2 linked regions of the Homo sapiens genome follow. The protein of the gene in region 1 purifies or fractionates together with the protein of each later gene. This does not show direct contact. Each region holds a gene or a part of one and is shown on either strand. Other genes may lie near its edges.

Region 1 (9,021 bases):
CTGAAGCAGGAGAATCACTTGAACCTGGGAGGCAGAGGTTGCAATGAGCCGAGATCGTGCCATCACAACAGAGCAAGACTCCGTCTCAAAAGAAAAAAAATTCCCAAAACCAGATGTTTAGGGTGGAGAGTTCATTACTGACAACAGTAGAGAATCTCATCTTCAATTTTAGAGATAAATTATATCAAGGGAAATTTTGACAGCCAAAGTGAAGTCCTGAAATTAAACAGAGTAAAGAAATTATCAATCTAGTAAAGATCCTCAAAGAATGCTTTCTGGAGAACAGTTTTAGATAAAATAAGCAAATAAAGAATGAAGATAGCAGAGATAAAGCCGGAGAAGTAGAAACTATCAATGTTTTTACCCCCTTCAAAAATAATGTTGAAACTTAGTACCCAATGCAACAGTGTTGGGAGCTTGGGCCAAATGGGAGGTATTTAGATCATGAGAATTTCACTCACGTAAATAGACTGATTAATGCCACTCTAACGGGCATGTAGGGGGTGAATTCGCCCCGTTTGTCATGTGAGGACACAGCAAGAAGGCCTCACCAGATACTGATGCTTGACCTTGGACTTCCACCTCAAGTACTGTGAGAAATACATTTCTGTTCTGTATAAATTACCCAGTCTATAGTATTCCATTACAGCAGCACTAAATGGACTAAGACAGTGGGAAAGTATGCATGTCCATTACAGGGAGGGTCAGAGAACAGGAGTTTTCATGAACCAGAAACTTCTTTCACTCATATTTTCTCCATGAGACATGCAATAAACAGATGAATGATGCCAACTCTGGCCTTGTACAGTATATCATGACTGGTTCACATCACTCCCCAGGTTTCCATATGCATTCACTCTCCTCTCCTGCCTCAACACTGAGTCTCTTTTATTCCACTCCAAAGTAAAGAGGTCATCCCTAGAACTACAGAAGCTCTTTCTGCCAACAGAGTTGTCTGGAGTTTATGGCATTAGCTTTGAGCAACAGGAAAAGTAGAATACAAAACTGCAATACAGAAACTACAAAATTTCAAGGAAGGACTGGCTGAGAGAAGCCTTGAGGTTGGAGGGGAAGGAATGGCATTGTTGTGAAAACGTGTTCTGGGAACTGAGCTTAAATTGAATTGTAGGAGGCTGCAGTCCCACTGGAAAATGCATACTGGCACCAAGATGACTGCTGCTTCCAGGAACATCCTCCCACTCCTTAGCAATGTGGAACAGATTGAAGGAAGCTCAAACAATCCATTTAAGCAGGAAGTAAATAGATTAAGAGAGCAACCAGATGGCCTAAGGCACTATCGGTATAGCTATCCCCACCCCTCAGCGCCCCCATCAGCTTTTCCTTCCTTGTTTCTTCTCACTGTCTGAAAGACTACTCAGGCGTGCACTGCGAGGTGGAGATCTGACTTCTCTTGTTCCCGCTTAAGACTGCCTCCTGTGTAAGTTTCTGCTATCTAGATCTTTGACTACCAACCAGCCAGGAGTGGTCTGCCTCTTCTTTGGTCTGAGCTTGCCTTGTGCTTATATTGTTGTACCCAAGCGAGTTAAGAAAATACCCCACACTTTGAGACGAATTAAGAGTCCTTTAGTAAGCCAGTGGCCAAAGAGACGGCTAATGCTCAAAATTCTCTCGGCCCCGAGGAAGGGGCTTGATTAACTTTTATACCTAGGTTTAGGAAGGGGAGGGGGACTCAAATGCAATAATTCTACAGAAGCAAAAACATGCCTTAAAAGACAAATGGTTACAAGAAGAGCAACGGTACCAGGTGCAAGGTTGTAAATCTTTCATTGTAATTAGATATAGGGTCTATGCCGGACACGAACTCAAGGTTTTATGTTGTTATCTTTTTGAGAAAAAGCCTGGGAACTTCATACATTGTTGGTGTTACTACCTTATCAGTTAATTGGGCTCTTTTGAAACGCTGAGGATCTGTTTACCCAGGCCAACTCCTTACTAAAGGGGGTTGGGTAAGGAGCCCTTAGTGTCTTGTAAATTAAGGGGTCAATTGGAGTTTGTCCGACCTTCCCAGCTAGAGAGAGTCTTATTTACATGAGAAGCAAGGCTGGGTGATTAAAGAGACAAGCAGGACAAAATTCAAAGTAACGAGTTAGAGTAAAAACAAGGTTAGGCATTTCAATATAGGGTGGTTCTTAGTCCAGCAGGGCGTTTTCCCGATAACCACCTGTTTAACTACATTCACCCTTGGTGCAAGTGCCAAAAAACAAACAAACAAACAAAAAGACCAAGGCGATAGGTATTTGCACCATAAACTTCTCCCATCTTTTATGTCCGTAATTTTGTGTTATTTCGCATTTCTGACTGTTTATAGAATTGAATTGGCCTTTACCTTATCATATAATAATATACTTTAATTTTAATCACAAATACATATGTTAAGTAGAACACAATCTAGGAAATACAAGATAATACAGAGAAAAATGGAAGTATTGGGGAAAAGGAAACAGCACAAAACCAAGTGTGACGAAAAAGATAAACTTTGACTTCTAATTTCAACTGAGAATCAATGGACAAAACATCAAAGCCATTATCTGAAATGCATGGTTCCATTCATGTGAGAGTTGGAGAGACAAATGTTAGTATTCCAAAAAAGAAAATAATTCGGTTTAGGCTTTGGGAAAATCAGATTCTGTGTCTTAACAGCAAAGGTCCAGCCCCAGCAGGAAGCATGAGAACCCAAACAATGCCCTTGTGCTAATATTGTTAAGTGGAGAATCTGTAAAGAAATAATGAAGAAAATGACATTCACACAAGCTTAAAAGGACATGGATGTTTTGCTAAAGAAAAAAATATGTGTAGAAATTAGTAAATCAAGGAAGTAATTTTGCTTAGCATTCAAGTGCATGGGCTTTGGAATAAGGTAGATCTGGTTTGAATTTGGCTCCAACACTAACTAGGCGCCTAGTTTTTAGAAAATAGCTTCAATTACTGCTACACACTGGATTATGTTATCTAAATTCATATGATGAAGCCATAACCTCCCAGTGTGATGATATTTGAAAACGAGGCCTTTGGTGGGTAGTTTATGAGGGTGGGGTCCTCATAATGTGATTAGCACCCTTATAAGAAGAGGTATCAGAGAGTGCTCTCTCTCTCTCTCAACACTAGGTGAGGACCCTGCATAAATATGGCTATGTGCAAGCCAGGAAGAGGGCTCATACCAGAAACTAAGTTGGCCATCCTTGATCTTGGAACCCTCAGCATCCAGAAGACCCAAATCAACTAAGATAGTAGTCTTCTCTAAAAAGGGGAAACTTTGCTGCATAGAGTTGATTTGCAAAACAAGTGAACAATGCATATGCCACAGTCTATTGCATCATGAAAAACCAGTGTGCAATAGGTCTTTTTGTTCTTAGCAAGGTAAAGACATTTGCAATACTGACAGGAGAAATGTCACCTACAAATACTCTAAAGTGTGAAGTGACATAAATGTTTCTGCACAGCTAAAACTTTGGTATATGTGGAACAGTATGGAAAATGAGGCCAGAAAGGTAAAATAGTAAGCTGCTTTTTGTCATAAAGAGAGAAATGGAACACTCATTGTTCAAAAATAGGTACATAATTGAGAGATTTTATTCAGAATAATGCCTGATTAATATAAATTTAGTCACTGTAATAATGTAGCTACATAATTTATATATATGTATATATATTCGCACATTTTTTGCTTTATCAGGAATTTTTGTATATTCTACTAATGACTTTTCTGTATGATAGCACAAATTGCAATTGTTGGCCACTGCCACAAAGTGGGGGAAAATGCACATTTTTAAGCATTTCTTTGCTTCATCTATGAAAATTTCATCTTTGTGGTATGAATTATGGAGCATTGTCCTGAGTTGCCCTTATAGGTGACCGCAGTTTGTGTGTTGTATGCTGGAGTCCCAATTGAGGACATTACTGCATATAAAATGATTATAAGTAAAAGGCAGAAAATGTTCTGAAGGGTCATAACTTCCAAGGGTTCTCTACCCTTTGACCTCTGGATTGGGGTTCCCAGTGACTGCCTTAATATCCTTCTCTACCTACTGCCTTAAGGCCAACTCAATGTATCCACGTAAAGAGTACCCTAAAGCCAGTAAAAGATTATCACGAACACCCAGAGATGTTTATGGCCATCATTCCAGATCCTCTTTGCTTTTTCTTGACTTACTCCTTTTTTGATAAAGTTATTCATATGGTTTCAAATCCAGAATTCAGCTATTCACTTCATGGCCCTAGTTTGGATTAAAACAATCAGCTTTCTTTTGCTCTGTAGATGGCCTTGGACAGTACATATTAACAGTCTATGGGGCCCCTTTTCCACTCATGACCACATCCTGCTTGCAGATCTGCTGCTGGGTTAACACCACATCATCTGCTAGTTGATGCCATTTATTTGACATCCTGGGGTTACAGCACGCTAAAGGGCACCCACTGTCCTTAACAGAGAAAAATACACTGCTGAGCAGAGGATTAAACAGACTCCTCACACTACCGGAAGTTCAGTGCATTTTCCAGGATTTTCAAGTCTTCGATGCTGTCATGTTGAGAGTCCACTATCCACGTTTGTTTATCCAGGAATAATGCAGAAAATCTGAGCATTCGTGAATCTAATCATTGAGGTAAAGTAACCTAGTCATGGTCAAGAGGACAGCTAGTGTTAAACTCCTTCATATAAATTTAAGGAAGGATTTACATATTCATAATGACTTTCTGATCTGGAAAGCCCAGGCTTGTCAGTTATTAATAATTGGATGAATACTTCAGGTAGTATTTAAACAAATAGCGATTTCATAGCAGACATTTCCCCAACCAGGAGATGCAGTAAAGTATTGGTAGCAATAGATGCTCCTACCAAGATCTCCTCCTGCCACTGCCACTCTGTGCACAGGAAAGGAGGGGAGAAGAAGCCATGTTGCTTCTCTTATATTTGAGCATCATTTAAGGGAATATAAGTCTCTAATGACTCACATGTAAGTCTGCTGGGTAAGAAAGTTCTAATGTTGGAACTCCTTTCAGCTATCGAATTTTGTAAGAAAAAAAACTTATTTGTGTTTATATACATTTATGAGATACAAGTGTAATTTCGTTACATGGATATATGCCATATTGGTGAAGTCAGAGATTTCAGTGTGCACATCACCCGAAAAATGTTAACTGTACCCATTAAAGTAATTTCTCATCCCCCATTTCCCCTCACCACATGCTCCAGCCCTTGCCAGGAAACTGTTCATTTTCTCTGACTAACAGAAACGAAAGCTAAAAACACTGGTGGGAGGAGTCTCCACATTGTTTCCTACTCCATTTTCTCTGGGGCAATAGCAGAATAGGAGCAAGCCAGCACTAGTCAGCTAACTAAGTGACTCAACCAAGGCCTTTTTTCCTTGTTATCTTTGCAGATACTTCATTTTCTTAGCGTTTCTGGAGATTACAACATCCTGCGGTTCCGTTTCTGGGAACTTTACTGATTTATCTCCCCCCTCACACAAATAAGCATTGATTCCTGCATTTCTGAAGATCTCAAGATCTGGACTACTGTTGAAAAAATTTCCAGTGAGGTGAGTACTGTTCCTGATTTTGTAAATATGATCTTGTTCCTTCCTTGAAGTCCCCAGAATCACAAGGGGACAATCAGTATTGGTTATTCAGGGTCATGGGATGATGGGAGTAGGGCTGAGTATTCAGAAAAGTGAAAACTGAGTTGCTTGATATGAATCCTTCATTTACTTAGGAAGATAACAGGCATCTTCTATTCCACCACAACTGAGGACTGAACAAGAGAAAATGCATTTTGACCGTTGCAGATTTTAAAATTAATTATCCGAGTGTATACTGGCATAAGTTGGTACTTAGAAGAGGGCTTCTGTTATTTTGGCTGGAAGAAGTGTTGGAAACTCGGTAGCTGTGGTGGGTTCTCAAGATAGTGACATGAAAAAAGTATCATGAAAGAATATTAAGTAAAAAACATATCTGAGCATAGAGATGTATTATATGACATCATCCCAATTTTACAAAACATAAGAACAAATGTACACAGAGTAGAAAATTTTTTTCAGTTTCACAAACACAGTTACTCAAGCACATGGTGTCTTAATATTTTCATAAGTATATTGATCCTTTACTTTAGCTCCATTCTGCACCGGGTGCTAGCGGCAGAATTTCAATCATTTTGGAATTACTCTCTGCCCTCCTGAAAGTTAATGATTTTTTTTTTCCTTGTGGCAAGGTATAGGGGAGTGGAGGGGAAGGCAGTTAGGAAAAGGTTACTATTGTTTACTTTTCAAATTTTTAAAAGATGTTTTCTATAGCCTGGTACAATATTTCATGTGTGCTTAAATGGAATGTGAGATTCTTAAATGTTGTTTTCAGAATTTTATTAGATAAATGTTGTTAATTACGTTGTTCAAATTTATTATATCATTACAGATTTTTTCACCTTGTTCATTTAGTAATTGAAGCATAAACTGAAATCTCCTATTATAAAGTTTGCTTTTTTGGCCGGGCACAGAGGTTCATGCCTGTAATCCCAGTACTTTGGGGGAGACCAAGGCGAGCGGATCACTTGACGTCAGGAGTTCCAGACCAGCCTGGCCAGCATGGCGAAACCCTGTCTCTATTAAAAATACAATAATTAGCCGGGTATGGTCATGTGTGCCTGTAATCCCAGCTACTCAGGAGACTGAGGCAGGAGAATCGCTTGAACCAGGAGGCAGAGGTTGCAGTGAGCCGAGACTGTGCCACTACACTCCAGCCTGGGTGACAGAGCAAGGCTCTGTCTCAAAAAAAAAAAAAAATTTTTTTTCTTTGTAGTGCTCTCACAATCACATACATGTTATGTGTATATATAATATACATTCACACACAAATATATGTATATATAATCATGTATACAAACAGGTACACACATATATGTGTGTAGTGATGTCTGTACATGTGTGTATATGAAGAGAAATATATACTAATTATAGTACCATGAAGCACTATAAAATAATAAATAATATCATTAGATAAATTAGATAAATTCATAACTAAAACATAATTTTCTAGGAGTTGAAACTTTTATCATGTGGTATCTGAAGTTACTTTTGGGCTTAAGGTATATTTAAAATTACACAAACATAGATAAACTGGCTTTCTTTAGTTATTCCTTGCAAGATAATTTTTAACAATTTTTTTCACCTTTTGTTAACAATATATATGTAGATTTCTTAAATCAAATTTGATGAAAGTTGTCACTTAACAGGTCAGACCTTTTAGGTATATGCTGGTAATTAACAATCTGCTGTCTTTACTTCAATTTATGACACTTCTATATCATCTCACTATCTAAGACAATTGCTTTAGTGAATTGTCATGTTCTTTTTCTTCCCTCCCTTTACCATGCTGTTGTAATTTCTGTTTCTCTTATATTTGATCAGGGTTTTCTTTGTAAGACATTAGGAACACCTAAAAAAGTTTATTTTTCACTCTTCTTATCTTTTGGCTGGCAGAATTTTTAATTTTATTCATGTTTTCCTATTAAATATTATTTTCAATAGATGTTTTCTTGTGGTATGAGTCTTTGTCTTGCAAAAAGACTGAGGCCCTGAGTATCACAAAATAGTTTTTGAGACTCTTCTATTTAAATATCATTTTGCCTAAATTAAAACTCTAAAATGTAAAATTATATTTTCCCTTAAGACAAGATGAAAGCACCTCTTCTGTGCTGTGGAGCTAGATACATTTTGAAGTTAAGAATCTGGAGGCTTCAGAAAGGCTATTTAGTGTATATATTCTAAATAGTGTCTTACTAGAAACTCCATTGGGATATAAATAATTACTCCAAAATCAAAAGCACTAATATTGCAAAACAAAACATGTGAGTGTTCACATTTCAGTGAAATAAAGATTATACATAGCCTACTGTCATCCCAAATCTGGTTTTATTTTGCAAATAAATTGTGCTGTCACACTTGTTGGAAACAAGTGCTCAGTGCCACAAAGAAAAACCAGCACTTAAACAGGAAATTTCTCAGCAAAGCATATTTGCTTCTACAGAAGGGTGCTGCCTGCGTCAGTCACAATGCACATTCTAAGCTGACCGGATTGGCTACTGCTTTAAATTCTATAGGGGTAATTAGGCGGGAAGGAAGACACTGTCCTGTACCAATTAGGCGGGAAGGCATGTCTGGGGCGGCAAAGGAAGGAAGGGTTGTTTACAGAACAGGAAAGAACAGGAAAGTTTGAAGACGAACTTATTGTTTCTAGCACACTCACAAAATAAGTCAAAACTTTCCATTGAAAATTTTTTTTGGTTTTGCAATTGATATGGAACTTTGGACCAACATTATATAAAAATAACTCCATTGTCCTGCTTCAGGCAGTTTTGATATAGAGATTCACTTTCAATTTGATTCTTGAATCTTTGTAGGTGATCTATTCCTCATTACCGAAGGCTTACAGAGTATTTTTGTTCATTATATTCTTCAGTTTCACTATAATGTGTTTTTGTATAGATTTTCCCTTCATTCTCTGGACCTTTTCAGTCCAAGGATCCTCATGTTCTCGTAAGAAGGAAGCTTTTTTTTTTTTTTTTTTTTTTTTTTGACGGAGTCTCACTCTGTCACCCAGGCTGGAGTGTAGTGGCACGATCTCCGCTCACTGCAACCTCCGTCTCCTGGGTTCAAGCAATTCTCCTGCCTCAGCCTCCCGAGTAGCTGGGACTGCAAGCGCTTGCCACCACACCTGGCTAATTTTTGGTATTTTTAGTGGAAACGAGGTCTCACTGTGTTAGCCAGGATGCTTTTGATCTCCGGAACTTGTGATTCGACCACCTCGGCCTCCCAACATGCTGGAATTACAGGCGTGAGCCACTGCGCCTGGCCCAATTAATAGCCCCTGAAATTTAGATATCTTGGTTATACACAAAGACATCATTCCTAAAATTAAAAAATTCATTAATTTAAAAGTTTTGGAATCCATACCTTGCACTGTCATCATGGAAGTGTACAGGTGTTAAGAGGTCAAGAGCAGTGACACTCT
Region 2 (8,227 bases), on another chromosome or scaffold:
TGCCTGCCACATGCAAGGCACTGTGCTAGAACCTGGGGAAAATGGTGAGAACAAGACACACATGTGGCTCCTGTTTGATGAAGCTCGCATTCTAGCCAATCTATCATGAAATCTAACATGAAAACATCTCTTTATATAATCTGCATCTGGGCACAGAATGTTATAAAATTGTATAACAGACAGTCTGACCCAATGACAATGTACTTACTGGAACAAGAAAAGCCAGAGTCTTGCCAGATCCAGTTTTGGCCGCTCCAAGTACATCTTTACCTTGCAAAGCCAATCCAATGGTCTGCTTCTGTATCTCAGTCACCAAACGGTACTGAGCTTCTTGCAAACCTGGCAACATGGAGGGAAGAATTATACTTTAGAAGATCCCTGTAGGATGGTATTATAGGCTAAGTGAGTTGTGTCCCCCAAAATTCCTATGTTGAAGCCCTAATGCCTCGTACCTCAGAACATAACTATACTTGGAGACAGGGCCTTTAAAGAGGTTGATTAAGTTAGAGCCCCATAGGGGTGGACTCTGATCCAACACAAACGGTGTCTTTATGAGAAGAAACTTGAACAAAGAGACACCAAGGGTCCACATGCACAGAGGGAAAACCATGTGAAGAGAGACAAGTTATTCTGTGATCCACCTACTCCACTCCTGGGTATAATCCAAAGGGTTTATTAATAAAACCACTACTTTGAAAAGTATTTGTGCTCACATGTTCATTGCAGCATTATTCACAGAAGCCAAGATATGAAATCAACCTAAGTGTCCATGAATGAGTAAAGAAAATATATGTTATATACATACACATACACACACACACACACACACACACACACACACACACAAATGGAATATGACTCAGCCTTTAAAAAGGAAATCCTGTTATTTACAACAACATGGATGAACCTGGAGGACCTTATGTTAACTGAAATAAACCAGGCACAGCAATAAAGATGCCACATAATCTCACTTATATGTAGAATCTAAAAAAGCCAAATTCAAAGGAGCAGAGGGTAGAATGGTAGTTACCAGAAGCTGGGGGAAGTAAGGAGAGTGGGAAGATGTTCATCAAACATACAAAATTTCAGTTAGAAGGAAGAACTTCAAGAGATCTATTGTAGGCCAGGCGTGGTGGCTCACGCCTATAATCCCAGCACTTTGGGAGGCCAAGGCAGGCAGATTCCTTAAAGTTCAGGAGCTCAAGACTAGCCTGGGCAACATGGCAAAACTCTATCTCTACCAAAAATTTTTAAAAATTAGCCAGGCACAGTGGCATGCACCTGCAGTTCCAACTACTCAGGAGGCTGAGATGGGAGGATCACTTGAGCCCAGAAGGCTGAGGATGCAGTGAGCTAAGATCACACAACTGCACTGCACCCTGGGTGACGGAGCAAGACCCTATCTTAAAAAAAAAAAAGAGAGATCTATTATATATCTCTCTTAATATATACTGCTATAGTTAATTAAAATATACTGAAAAAAGAAAAAATACTAAGTAGATTTTAAGAGTTCTAAACACAAAAGGATGAGGTAATATTAGCACATATACAATTAGTTTGATTTAGCCATTCCACAGCATATACATATTTCAAAGCATCATGTATACACTGTAAATATATACAATTTTTTTTTTTGAGACGGTGTCTCACTCTGTTGCCCAGGCTGGAGTAGAGTGGCATGAACCCGCCTCCCAGGTTCAAGTGATTCCCCTGCCTCAGCCTGTAGCTGGGATTACAGGTGCCCGCCACCACACCCAGCTAATTTTTGTATTTTTAGTAGAGACGGGGTTTCACCATGTTGGCCAGGCTGGTCTCAAACTCCTGACCCTGTGATCCACCCACCTCGGCCTCCCAAAGTACTGGGATTACAGGCATGAGCCACCACACCTGGCCAAATATATACAATTTTTATGTATCCAAAAATAAAAAGGCAGCAAGAGGGCAGCCATCCACAAGCCAAGGAGGCCTGGAACAAATCCTTCCCTTATTTTGCCTTAAGAGGAAACCAATGCCACCAACATCTTGATCCCAGACTTCCAACTTCCAGAACTGTGAGAAAATCAGTCTCTGTTGTTTAAGCCACTCAGTCTGATATTTTGTCATCTCAGCCCTAGCAAACAGATACAAAGGGTGTTGCATCTTGGTTTGTTCCCTTGCTTATTTTAACTAACAAAATTAGATTTCATTTTATTCAGAGGATGCTGGAAACTTGTTTTTCTTTTAATTAGTCCAGAAAGAATGAGAATAACGTACTGTTAAAACTTGAATATTGCTTATTTTCATTGGTTTTCATGATATCAAAATTTGCCAAAATAAGATTTTTCAGGCTAAACCCTCTAAATCTTCTCCCATTTATCAAAAATGCCAAGAAATCCAATAACACATCCCAAGATCACCATATACTTACCTTTCAATGTTTTTTTGGACAAGGGAAAATCTGAAAATCTTGTGATTTCATTTACATTTATCTGGAAAAAAAGAAAAAGGAATCAGGGTAACTCATTTGTTTCACGACACAGCCATTTCTTCTCTACATTGTATTGCCCAGCTCATCCTTGGTAATTCAGGGTTGAATTCAATCATCGCTTCTAATTAAAAGCCATCATTCCTTCTGTAACGAAATATGCCCTGAAGAGGCTGTCCCTGAATCGAATATACATTTGTAAGCATTTCAATTGGTAAGGAAAAAAAAGTCACCCAATACACACACACCACACATACTACTATCTGACCTCCAAAATGTTGAACACAGTAAAGCATCACCAACCACATCAATTTTAGGAAGAAAATTTACTTCCTATCATCCTTCAAGGGATCTCAATTTAAGAAACAAGGACAAAATTACCACAAACCACAGATCACAATGAAAATAGTTCTATACACACAATTTGGAAAAAAGAGTGAAATTAGTTGGAGAAATATTTCTTGTTAGCACAATCCTTTCAAAGTTTTAACCATAAATCAGTGGCCTATGAAATCCAACCTGATAACTATTCATTTTGGGGTTACTGAAGGAGGAGTATTATTTCAACACAGGGGAAATGTCTGTCATGCTTTGAAGCCACAATAAGTAACATTTTGCTAACTTTACATTATTCAAATATTCATTACTGATGTTCTTTATTAGCACAAACCCAATTTTCTGAATTTCATTTCAGCTGCTCAGGAGAATTATTTTATTACAGATGCTGAAGGCAGGAACTACTGCTCAGTTCTGGAAATATGCTGCCAAATTATACATGATTCGCAAAAGGAAAAAGCTGCATTTGTATGGTTCATTTATTTAAATTACACTCTAGGCAGTAAAAGGATGACAGTTGTACTTCATTTTACAATCTACACATCTTTCCTATGATTCTTAACATTGCCCAGGCAGTGTTTACTCTGTGCCCTCCAATGCTGAAAATACAAATATTAAAACATTGTCTTAATCCCTACAAATCATTTCAGATATCACTGGAAAGGAGGCAGAATCAGTGTACCAGCATTAGAAGAACGGTTTATTCAAATAACATACTGTCCCAGCAAGGAACCTCAATTAGAAGATAATCTTCCAAACAAGGCATTAAAATTAGGTGTAGCTCACTCTAGCACTCGTGGTATTATCAGCTAAAAAGCTGTTTTCAAAGGGAATGGAATGCCTACAGAAGGAGGCAGGCTGCCAACACACTCTTCAATCCCCAGCAAGAGACACAGTACAGGCAAAGCGAGCTCCTCAAACAAAACATTGCACAGCACATCTATCTTCCTAAAGTCAGTTAACCTCCTGGAGGGAAAGTTTAGAAGAATGAAACTGCTCCAACACTCTTCAATCAAGCATTACAACAGAAAACTATATACCATATTCCTTTTTTTTTTTTTTTTTTTTTTTTCCGAGATGGAGTCTCGCTGTGTCGCCCAGGCTGGAGTGCAGTGGCGCGAACTTGGCTCACTGCAAGCTCCACCTCCCGGGTTCACGCCATTCTCCTGCCTCAGCCTCCCAAGTAGCTGGGGCTACAGGCGCCCACCACCACGCCCAGCTAATTTTTTCTGTATTTTTAGTAGAGACGGGGTTTCATCGTGTTAGCCAGGATGGTCTTGATCTCCTGACCTCGTGATCCACCCGCCTCGGCTTCCCAAAGTGCTGGGATTACAGGCGCCATATTCTTTAAAAGAAGACGAAGAAAAGGAACTTTTGATTCTGTTGATGTTCTAAAATAGGGCCCAGCAAACTACAGCCTACGGGCCAAATCCAATTTGCTGCCTATTTTAGTAAGTAAAGTTTTATTCGAGCACAACTACAATAATTCATTTATTTATTGTCTATGTAGTTGTTGCGGAGACTGTATGGACCATAAAGCCTAACACAGACTATCCAGCCCTTTACAGAAAAAGAGTTTGCTGACCCTGCTCTAGATATTCTGTTATATTCCAAGGATTACATAGCAGCCACAGCAGGAGATGGCTACGGTTCCTACAAAGAAAATAACCCAGCCAGGCACGATGGCTCACGCCTGTAATCCCAACACTTTGGGAGGCCAAGGCAGGCGGATCACCTGGGGTCAGGAGTTCAAGACCAGCCTGGCCAACATGGCGAAACCCTGTCTCTACTAAAATTATAAAAATTAGCCAGATGCAGTGGCGTGCGCCTGTAATCCCAGCTACTTGGGAGGCTGAGGCAGGAGAATCGTTTGAACCCAGGAGGCAGAGGTTGTGGTGAGCAGAGATAGAGCCACTGCACTCCAGCCTGGGCAACAGAGCGAGACTCTACCTCAAAAAAATAACTCTTTCTCCTTCCCTTTATCCCTTTCTTAGGGGGGAAAAATCACTTACATCTCCATAATACTCATACTCAGTCTACAAATCTGTCTCACTATTCTTCTGAATTCAGGGAAGAGATATTTCAGGGATGGTCCTTATTAAAGGCTTCCCACGGCTGTTGGAAAAGTTGAAAAGCGGAGGAGAAAAGGGTGACATTTGACCATCCTCTTATACTTCTCACAACTCTCTGGTAATGCCTATTTCTCGCTAAAGTGAATAATGCCTGATGAAAAAAGCATTGAAACGCCCTAGAATGCTCCACCTGTTGCCGTCAAGAGAAGAACAGCAAACCGCCTCAACTACACCAGACCAAATTTTGATTTAAAAAAAAAAAATCAGGATTTGAATGCAGTTTCTATGCAGTACAGCTGATTACAGTCTAAATGAATCCCAGATGCAAAGAGTCATTCAGCAATAGTAAAAACAGCTGCTGAACTAACACAGCTAGCTCAACATTTCTCAGTGAGCCTCAATCCCCAGTTTTCCAGCAGCCCCTCCAACACACACCACCCCTTAGAAATACACCACCCTCCTGCTGTGAGAAGCATAGTTGACTGACAATGCCAGCTGTGCCTCCTCTAGACCCACCATGGAAAAGCCATGCTTCCCCCGGGCTGCTCCTAGTCAATGGCGGGGCTCAGCAGTGCTACTGCAGGCCCGGGGATTCCTCTGATGGACAATTTTGGATCAGTGACTCCCCATCAGCCTGGCTGAATCTTTCTTGGAACTGTGCTGCAGTCTGAGACTCTTCCTACCTTCCTACCTGCTGCTCCTTCCATCCTTCTCTCCTTTCCCTCCCTACTCCTGTTCCCTCTCCTTCAGCCTTCACGGACATTCCCCCTCCTGTGCCTGTAACCCCTAAAGCTCCAGTTCACCCAATCCCATTTTGTCATCTGCCTCTCAAAGGACCCAAGACCTAGACTCTACCAATAGTCTCCAGTCTCCTACCTGATCTCTTACCCTCCAACCTTTACAGCTCAGATATATTCTCTCTATACAGAGTCCCGCCACATACTTCCCATGGCTTCCAGATAAAGTCTTTGAGCATGGCCTCTGTATAAATTTCCTACTGTTACTGTAATAAATTACCACAAATAGTGGCTTAAACCAACACAAATATATTACCTTAGAGCTCTGGAGGTCAAAAGTCCACAATAGGTTTCGCTTGGCTAAAATCTAGGTGGCAGCAGGGCTGCGTTATTTTCTGATGACTCTACGGCAGAGTCCATTTCCCCGCCTTTTCCAGCTTCTAGAGGCTGCCCACATTCCTAGGTGGTGACCCTCTTCTGTCTTTAAAGTCAGCAACAGACTCCAAGTCTTTCTCACATCACGTCATTCTGACACTGACTCTTCCGCCTCCCTCTTCCACATCTAAGGACACCTGTGATTACATTGGGCCCACCTAATCCAGGATAATCGCCCTACTTTAAGGTCAGCTGATTAGCAACCTTAATTACCCCTTACCATCTAACATATTCACAGGTTCCAGGTATTAGGATGTGGACACTTTAAGAAGCCATTATACTGCATGCTGCAGCCTCCAATGTCATCACAGTCCAACCTTCTTCTCGAACCCATCTGAAGCCAACTCAGGAATGCATCCAACACTCCAAGGAGCATTTCCTCCCTCAAAGAATGCCATGCATTTTCACCTCTCTGTATTTCCCCATGTTCCCTCCACCTAGAACATCCTTGCCAATCTTTTCTATCTGATGAACTCATCATTCAAGAACTAGCTCCACCAGGCACAGTGGCTCACACCTGTAATCCCAGCACTTTGGAATTACAGGTGGGCAGTTCGCTTGAGCACAGGAGTTCAAGACCAGCCTGGGAAATACAGTAAGACTCCATCTCTACAAAAATTACCAAAAAAATTAGCCAGGCCTGGTGGCATGCACCTGTAGTCCTAGCTACTCAGGAGGCTGAGTTGGGTGGGTCACTTGAGCCCAGGAGGTCAAGGCTACAGTGAGCCATGATGGTGCCACTGTACTCTAGCCTGGGTGATAGAGTGAGACTCCATCTTAAAAAAAAAAAAAAAGCTTAGCTCCACTCTTGGCAACTGCAAACCACTGGACAGTTTGTATGCACCACAATGAAATCTGCTAAGACTGAGATGCAGGGGATGAAATCCAGCCCACATCAGCTCCCCAAGCCAGACGTGAGGCTGCAACCACCAGGAGGAAGGGAAGCATACCCAGAAGAAGCATGTTTTTTGTAATGCATCTGACCAGAAGGAGCTCAGTATAGGATAACTCAACTTCCCCTAATTACACCATCCTCTAACTCCACAGCACTGAGGTACATGTTACAAACTTACTATTATAACATTTTATGCATACTAATATAACGTGTCAAACTGTATCAACCCCTACATGCCCAGGTTCCCTAGGGACTTGGGCACGTATTTTTTTTCCATATATACTCACACCCGCCTAGACAAGTGCCTGTCAAATTGTTTTAAAAGGTTTCGGAATCAAATTGTTCAGTAGTTCACCAGTGAGGCTACTGAGCACCACCTGTGTACCATGGCTATGTAGTAAGTTTTATGTACAATGCTACCACCTGAGGAGCCACATAGTGAGGGCCTGCACCTTGTTTACCTAGAGAATGATAATCCTGCTATTCAAATAATTATATCCTAGTATTGCTAACCTTGACAACTGATTTCACACTGCATTTATTTCTCAACCAAATCTTAAGAAAATATTTCTAAAATTAAAGAAGTAAAACAGAACAATGCTTAGCGGGGGAAAAAGCTGCTCCTTCAACAATGAAACAAATGGGATTTAAATAAATGCAATGCAGTAAAGCCTACTGGTTTGGTGCACTGGTATCAGACTACCTGGCTTAGAACTCCTTTTTCACTTCTTAGCTGTTTAACCTTACACAAATTATTTAACCTTGCTGTGCCTTAAAGTTGTCTCACCTGTATAATGGGAACAATTTCACAGGGTTATTTGTGGTGAGTATACGGAAAGCCAGCATGAATAAAAGTTTGATAAATGTTCACAATTACAAGAAACAAAAAAGAATAATCCAATGCTGCCAACCAGAGCAAAGCCACCTGGGAAAGGTCTAGTCTTACAGCAAACAACATCTAAACACTGACTGAGCACCTATTCAAGGACAAGCACTGTGCTACCAGACTCTGGGGAGTGCAAAGACGAGTGTATCACTGGTTGCTGACCTTGAATGTTCATGGTCTAGTAGGAGAGTTTTTTTAAAAAAGTTAAAGAAGCCAATCATCGCAGACAGTTGATAAATGTTGTCATAAAGGTATCTACAAAATGCTACAGATGCACAGTAGCCCTAACTCGGTCAGGGGAGGTGATGAAGAGAAGTTTGCACTAAATCTTGAAGGAAGAGTACCTTTCCTTAGAGTGGGCAGATGGGTATGCTCACTGCACACAGTGGAAACATCAAGTAC

The links. The genes of interacting proteins can lie anywhere in the genome.
Region 2: the proteins of IFI16 (region 1) and DDX10 purify together in Homo sapiens (affinity purification with mass spectrometry; 3 studies listed by BioGRID and IntAct, with this or other methods). This does not show direct contact.

The regions. Positions count from the first base shown.
Region 1 is NC_000001.11:159,004,604-159,013,624, forward strand, and holds the start of IFI16 (gamma-interferon-inducible protein 16), read left to right. Parts: upstream 1-5,303; 5' UTR 5,304-5,558; intron 5,559-7,903; exon of another isoform or gene 7,904-8,877; intron 8,878-8,963; exon of another isoform or gene 8,964-9,021.
Region 2 is NC_000011.10:108,667,708-108,675,934, reverse strand, and holds part of DDX10 (probable ATP-dependent RNA helicase DDX10), read right to left. Parts: intron 2,469-8,227; coding exon 2,408-2,468; intron 340-2,407; coding exon 209-339; intron 1-208. UniProt on the Homo sapiens protein: Putative ATP-dependent RNA helicase that plays various role in innate immunity or inflammation. Plays a role in the enhancement of AIM2-induced inflammasome activation by interacting with AIM2 and stabilizing its protein level.